2 linked regions of the Homo sapiens genome follow. The protein of the gene in region 2 interacts with the protein of the main gene of each other region in a pairwise test. Each region holds a gene or a part of one and is shown on either strand. Other genes may lie near its edges.

The links.
Region 1: the proteins of DHRS7 (region 2) and GLP1R interact in a protein complementation assay, tested with the Homo sapiens proteins (one large-scale study listed by BioGRID).

Annotation. Positions count from the first base shown.
Region 1 is NC_000006.12:39,072,588-39,076,413, forward strand, and holds part of GLP1R (glucagon-like peptide 1 receptor precursor), read left to right. Parts: intron 1-274; coding exon 275-428; intron 429-1,022; coding exon 1,023-1,182; intron 1,183-1,726; exon of another isoform or gene 1,727-1,794; intron 1,795-3,826.
Region 2 is NC_000014.9:60,145,872-60,148,587, forward strand, and holds part of DHRS7 (dehydrogenase/reductase SDR family member 7 isoform 1 precursor), read right to left. Parts: intron 2,351-2,716; exon of another isoform or gene 1-2,350. UniProt on the Homo sapiens protein: NADPH-dependent oxidoreductase which catalyzes the reduction of a variety of compounds bearing carbonyl groups including steroids, retinoids and xenobiotics.

The sequences.
Region 1 (3,826 bases), on a different chromosome or scaffold from region 2:
TTGTGTCAAAGAAGATGCTGCAGAGAGAAGGATAGAATGTGGATGGGAGGAGGGGGCAGTGACTACATAGCGGAAGCCTTCATGGAGAGGCAGGATTTGAGTTGGACAGAAGGATTTTCACGATGATGAGGAAGAAGGGTATTCATAGAAGAAGACACACGCACAGTCCCAGGGCTGGAAACATGCCTAATGTGTGTGTTAGCTTGAGAGCCTGGGGTTGTAGAGCAGAACTGTTGGCTGCCTTGCCAGGGAAAGGCCCTGCTTTCTCCCTCAGACACCTGCACTGCACCAGGAACTACATCCACCTGAACCTGTTTGCATCCTTCATCCTGCGAGCATTGTCCGTCTTCATCAAGGACGCAGCCCTGAAGTGGATGTATAGCACAGCCGCCCAGCAGCACCAGTGGGATGGGCTCCTCTCCTACCAGGTGTGTGGTGCATCCAGGACCGCCTCAGGAGGGATGGGCGGTTGGAGGAGGCCTGCCTCTGCCACCCTAGACAGGCCTGGGACAGGAGAAGACAAGAGCCGAACAGTCCTGGCCCTTCGGGAGCCCCCAGTCTGATGGGAGAGGCAGTTCGCCTTGGGACCCTCCAGTCTGCTGAGAGAGGCAGTCTACCTTAGGGAGCTCCCAATCTAAGGGAGGAGACACTGCCCTAGGGAATTCTCAGTCTGACACAAAAGAGTAGTCTTTGGAGACACACTTGAGTTTGAATGTCAGCTCTGTCACTTACTATCTGTACACTTTTAGGCAAGTCACTTACTTCTCTGAGGCTGAGAAATAGGTGAGAAGTCACTTACTTCTCACCTGCAGGGGGATACATTACTTTCTTCCAATCAGGATAGTGAGGATTCAATGAGCTAAAGCAGATAAAGTCCTTAGCACTAGCCCTAGCCAGAGATGTGAGCTCTCTCCTCCTGCATTAACCATGGCAGGATAGTGGCTGGAGCAGGACGGGGAGTGGTATCAAGAGAGGCAGAGGGCAGAGCTGTTGTCCCCATGACACCCTTCCTCTACCCCCAGGACTCTCTGAGCTGCCGCCTGGTGTTTCTGCTCATGCAGTACTGTGTGGCGGCCAATTACTACTGGCTCTTGGTGGAGGGCGTGTACCTGTACACACTGCTGGCCTTCTCGGTCTTATCTGAGCAATGGATCTTCAGGCTCTACGTGAGCATAGGCTGGGGTAAGAACCGCCATCACCCACCCTGGACCTGTGGCACGGGGGTGGGAGACCTTGACCCCTCTTCTAACATGGTACTTGGAACGCACTGCTGAGCAAGGGGCAAGGCCCACTGGGTAACCCTCTTCCTGGGCACAGGACCTTCTGCCCCGGTGCTGTTAAGATGCCGTAGGGGGTTATGGTCCTCCCCTCCTCTGCATAACTCTCCTCCCTTAATGGAAGCCTCCACCGCATGTGGCCAAACACCACCCTCTACCACTATCATGCACACCACTGGAGGTCATGGCACTGTTCTCTTAAGACCACATGGGGACATAAGTTCACACCCAGTCCCGGGCAGCCCGAGGGCCTGAGGGAAATGGTGAGTCCTGGGCCTCAAGGTGGGGAGGGGATCAAGAGGGTAGGGGGCTGGCTGGGGGGAGCCTGCTGGTGCTCTGTCACATGACGATGAAGAGGAGGGCTCAGAGGAGAGCCAAGTACAGTGGGGCAGGGGGGCCAGAGGCCAGCCAAGGAAAGGGTGGACGGCGGATGTGCCTGGAGCCCAGCTGGAAATGTTCTAGCCAAAAAAGTTTGCCAAGAACCATTGTGTCTTTTTTTTTGCTGGAACATTTCTGGTTGTGCTTCTGCCTCTCACCACGTGGGATTGTAATGAGGGGCAGCATTGGGGTTGGGAAGGGGGCTGGGATCCCCTTCACCCCTGGGAAAACATGCAACAGGCCTTTCTGGAGGGACCCACGGTACCCAGAGAATAGGCCCTGCCCTCTGTCCTCCCTAATCTGCCATTGAATCCATGAGTTTTCCTGTTCCACACCATCCCCCGCCCTGCTTGCCACTCCTTCATTCACTCCTCCTTCCTTCATGCGCCCACCTCACGCTGCTCTGACCACGGCTGCCCCTGCCACGGACCTCCGGGGACTTTCCAGCTCAGTCACATCCAGACTCCTCTTCCCTGACAATGGTCCTGTCCCTGAGCCTTTGCAAGGCTGTTCTCCATGCAGGAATGTTCAGGGAGCATCCTTCCCACACCAGGGTGTCCGCTGCCTCTTCAGGAAGCTGCCTCAGGCCACCAGTCCTCGTGGTTCTGTGCTCTCTGCCCTCTCAAGCTCTCCATCCCCTGTCCTTGCACTTCATTTATTTTTACTGGTGTTCCTCAGCCATTTTTCTCTATACAGCTCCCCCCACCCCCCAGGAGAAGAGTAGCCTGAGAGATTTTAATGTGACCAGTGTCTTGAGGACACCAAGGCCCAGAGCTGGCAGGGCCTTACAGGCAGAGCAGGCCCTGGAACCCAGGCCTCCTGACTCCCAGGCTCTGGGCCTGCGGCCATCATGCCCTGTTCTCTTGCCTGGGCTGCATCCCTTCAGTCCCCTGCAGCACCCCTGAGCAGGCTCAGGCCTCTGCACAGGTGGGCAGGTAGGCCTGGCTCCTGCTCACAGATCCCTGCTCCTCACCTGCCTCCTCCACTCCCAGAACCCAGTCCCTTCCTTGGCCTTTTCTCCCCGAGGCTTCTTCCTCCTGCTAGAGCAGGAGGAGGGAGGCCATCGAGGGCAGCTCAGGGAAGGCTGTCTTCAGGGTGGGGGACGGTGTCTGTCCATTCTAGGAAATAGCATCAGCGCTGTTAGTGCCTGTCACCATGGCGACCCGAGGGCAGGAACAATCAAGGGACGTGTGTGATGTGTGCAGAGGAGCGGGGGTGGCTGGAGTTTGGTGGGGACACACTGCCCTAGAGGTCTCTGAGTGGGAGATGGGGGAGGGAGTGCCAAGTCCTTTTCCTACCACCTCACACCCTAGCTCAGGGCTCGGGGTCTGTGGGAGCACAAGGGCAAGACCCGGAGGACACCCTGCTCTAATCAGAACACCTTTTTCTTGAGGATTGGGGTGGGGGAGACGGAGAGAGATTCACAGGTTGCTAGGAGCTCAGACGTGATGCCAGGAGGCCTTGCCCAAGCTGGGATACTTGGGAAACAACTTTCAGCTTCATGTGCAAGTGGAAGAATTAAAATTAGGACTCTGACACAGTTGGAGAGGTCCCCCAAAGGGCATGGCAGCTTCTGCTGCAGTCCCCAGGCAGTTGGGGGCCTGTAGAAACCCACATGGAGGCTGTGCAAGAGGGAGGCAAATGATGGTTGAGGGAATCATTACTTCCTGGAGCCAGTTGTGTGTGTCTTAATTTGAGCTTTTTTCTCCAACCTGTCTTGCTCGTTTTCTAAATGGGAGAAAGATGAAGCCAGCAGGGAGTGCGTAATGTTTGCATGCAGCAGGGCTTTCGTGACTGTGTTTTTTGAAAAGGCCTTGTTAAGGAAATGCTGACGATGAGTGAAACTTGCCAGGTCTGGCTGATAACATGGGTGAGTGCCCTGATCCTGGAAGGAGGTCTCAGAGAGAAGGGACAGCAGGGGGCGAGGGATACCCAGAAGGAAGCTTCTGCATGTGTACGTGGTTCAGGAAATCGGCATGCTCTTGCCCAGACAATGTTCCTTCCCTTATTGGTGTGTTGACTCACCCATCATTCGTTCCATTCTCACTGGGCATCTTCTATGTGGCAGGGCCTGTACCATGTGCTGGGGCCTTTGGAGACCATCCCATTCCTTGTCCAGTCTCATAAAGGCCTGTTACTAAAGCACCGTAGATGCTGAGAGGTCCGATTTG
Region 2 (2,716 bases):
GATCCCTAAAAATAATAAAGATTCATAAAAACAAAGTTCCAGACATACAGACTAAAGAAGCAAATTCTAGTTAACAAGTACTATTAGCTTGAAATAAGCTATGCTAGCATTTTCTTAACTTAGACGCTTATCAATAAGAAAATTTATATATATACATATATATAAAATATAAAATAGTGGGAGAGAGGAAGAGTACAGACTATAAAGAATGAGGTATTATGTCCTAAAAATTGCTTTGAGAAATGACAGAATGCCCAGCTTATAATAAAGAGTGACAAAGTAGTAAGACTATATAATAAGCAATATTTCAAAGATGGTGGTAGGAAGAAAAAGGCTGTCATTTTTTTAGAAAAACCTAGATGTAAAAAAAATGCGAGATTTGCTAAATGATGTTTATATTTTACAGTTAGATATTCTCTAAACAAAACAAAATATCCTTCATATGGACATTTCTGGAAGTACTACTACAGTGGGACTGAAATTCTCTAGTCCCTGGTCCCTCTTTCCCCTTTGAAAAAAAAATCACTTCTATAATATATTCTTTCTCTGCCCTATTATTTAAATTGAGAATGTGAACCAGTACAGACATTATGGAAAATACGGAAATTCCTCAAAAAATTAAAAATAGAATTACCATCTGATCCAGCAATTCCACTTAAGGGTATAAATCTAAAGGAAGTGAAATCAGTACCTTGAAGTGATACCTACACTCCCATGTTCATTTTAGCATTATTCATAATAGCCAAGATATGGAAACAACCTAAGTGTCCATTAGTGAATGAATGGATAAAGAAAATGTGTGTGTGTGTCTGTGTGTGTATATATATATATGGAATATTATTCCACAATGGAATATTTTTCAGCCATAAAACAATGGAACTCCTGGCATTTGTGAAAACATGGATAATGAATGGACGTTAATGCTAAGTGATATAAGCAAGATACAGAAAAACAAGTACTATGTGATTTCACTTCTGTGGAATCTAAAAAGTCATACTCAAAAGCAGAGTAGAATGATGGTTGCCAGGAGCCAGAAGATGGAGGAAATGGGGAGATCTTGGTCAAAAGGTACACATTTTGGCCAGGCACAGTGGCTCACACCTATGATCCCAACACTTTGGGAGGCCAAGGTAGGTGGATCGCCTGAGCCCAGGAGTTTGAGACTAGCCTGGGCAACGTGGCAAAAACCCGTCTCTACAAAAACTACAAAACCTAGCCAGGCATGGTGGTGTGCGCCTATAGTCTCAGCTACTCAGGAGGCTGGGGTGGGAGGATTGCTTGAGCCTGGGAGGTAGAGATGGGAGTGAGCCATGATCACGCCACTGCAGACTCCAGCCTGGGTGACAGGGCGAGACCCTGTCTCAAAGAAAAAAAATGGTAGATATTTTCAGTTATAAGATAAATAACTTATGTTATTATAATTTACAGATTCTAAGGATCTAATATACCGCATGGTGACTACAGTTAATAATACTGTATAGCATATTTGAAATTTGCTAAGAAGATTTTAAGTGTTCTCACCACACACAAAAAAAGGTAACTGGGTGACATGTATTAATTAGCTTGATTGTGGTAATCATTTTACAGTGTATATTAGATCATCACAATGTATACCTTAAATATATATAATTTTTATGTGTCAATTATAAAGAAAATCTTTGATCATTAAGGAAGCTGAATATCCTGCTATATCTAACTCAAGCTGAGAAGGGGGAAAAAGCACAATAGCTAACACTTAGAACACTCCAAGTTGTGTTTTAAGTGCTTTTCATATATTAAATTCATGTAATTCCCATAACAATCCTGTGACTGGGCACTATTATCATCATTAATCTCCATCTTATATTAATAGATGGGGAGACTGAGTGATAGAGAAGTAACTTGCTTTAAGGGCATGGGGCAGAGCTGGGATTTGAACCCAGGTAGCCTAGCACCAGGCTGCATGCTCTGCCAGGAGGCTGTGCTTCCTCTGTAGTAAGGTGGCCTGTCCCTCTCAACTCTTTCCATCACTGGGCACAAAGCTACTGCATCAGCTGTCCTCCATATTTAAAACTCAGGTATACTCTTTGATGAAACTCTACCTTTAGAGCTTCTACCCACACTACCAAGTCCCAACAATACCAAAACACTCATAAGGGATCTGGCCCAAAGCAAACTGTTCCACATTACTACTTGGTAGAAAACGAAAAGCTCCTTTTTGATTTTTCACACTCTGGACATTTTAGTGTGTCATGACCCAGTCTGATAACCTTTTATGTCTCTTAAGCATTTTGTTGTGTTTGTAACTTTTTACCCCCTAATTCATTTTCACTGTCCTGCAAAGAGTTGGAATAAATTAAATGTCTAACAATTAGTGGATTGCTTAAATTTTTGCAGGTATATATAGTATGATCTTGTTTTATAATTCTTTTTTTATCTGTCAATCCCCATTGATTAATTTCTAAAAGAAGGTGGTAACAAAGTATATCAAAGGCTAACAGTAAAAACCATCCTCAGCAATAATCTTTTGCTGCATAATCATCTATAATTTTTGGTTTACTTCATTACATTTCCTGTACTGTCTATAAATTAAATTCTTTTGAGGGTCACAATTTCTCAGAAATGGTTAATAGTATTCCCTGACTAATTGCTATAAAGAATGAGTGCTGAAAGAATGATAATCAGCATATTTCCTTAGACAGGGGAATAGGCACATCTTAGATGTGCTGAGTACTTC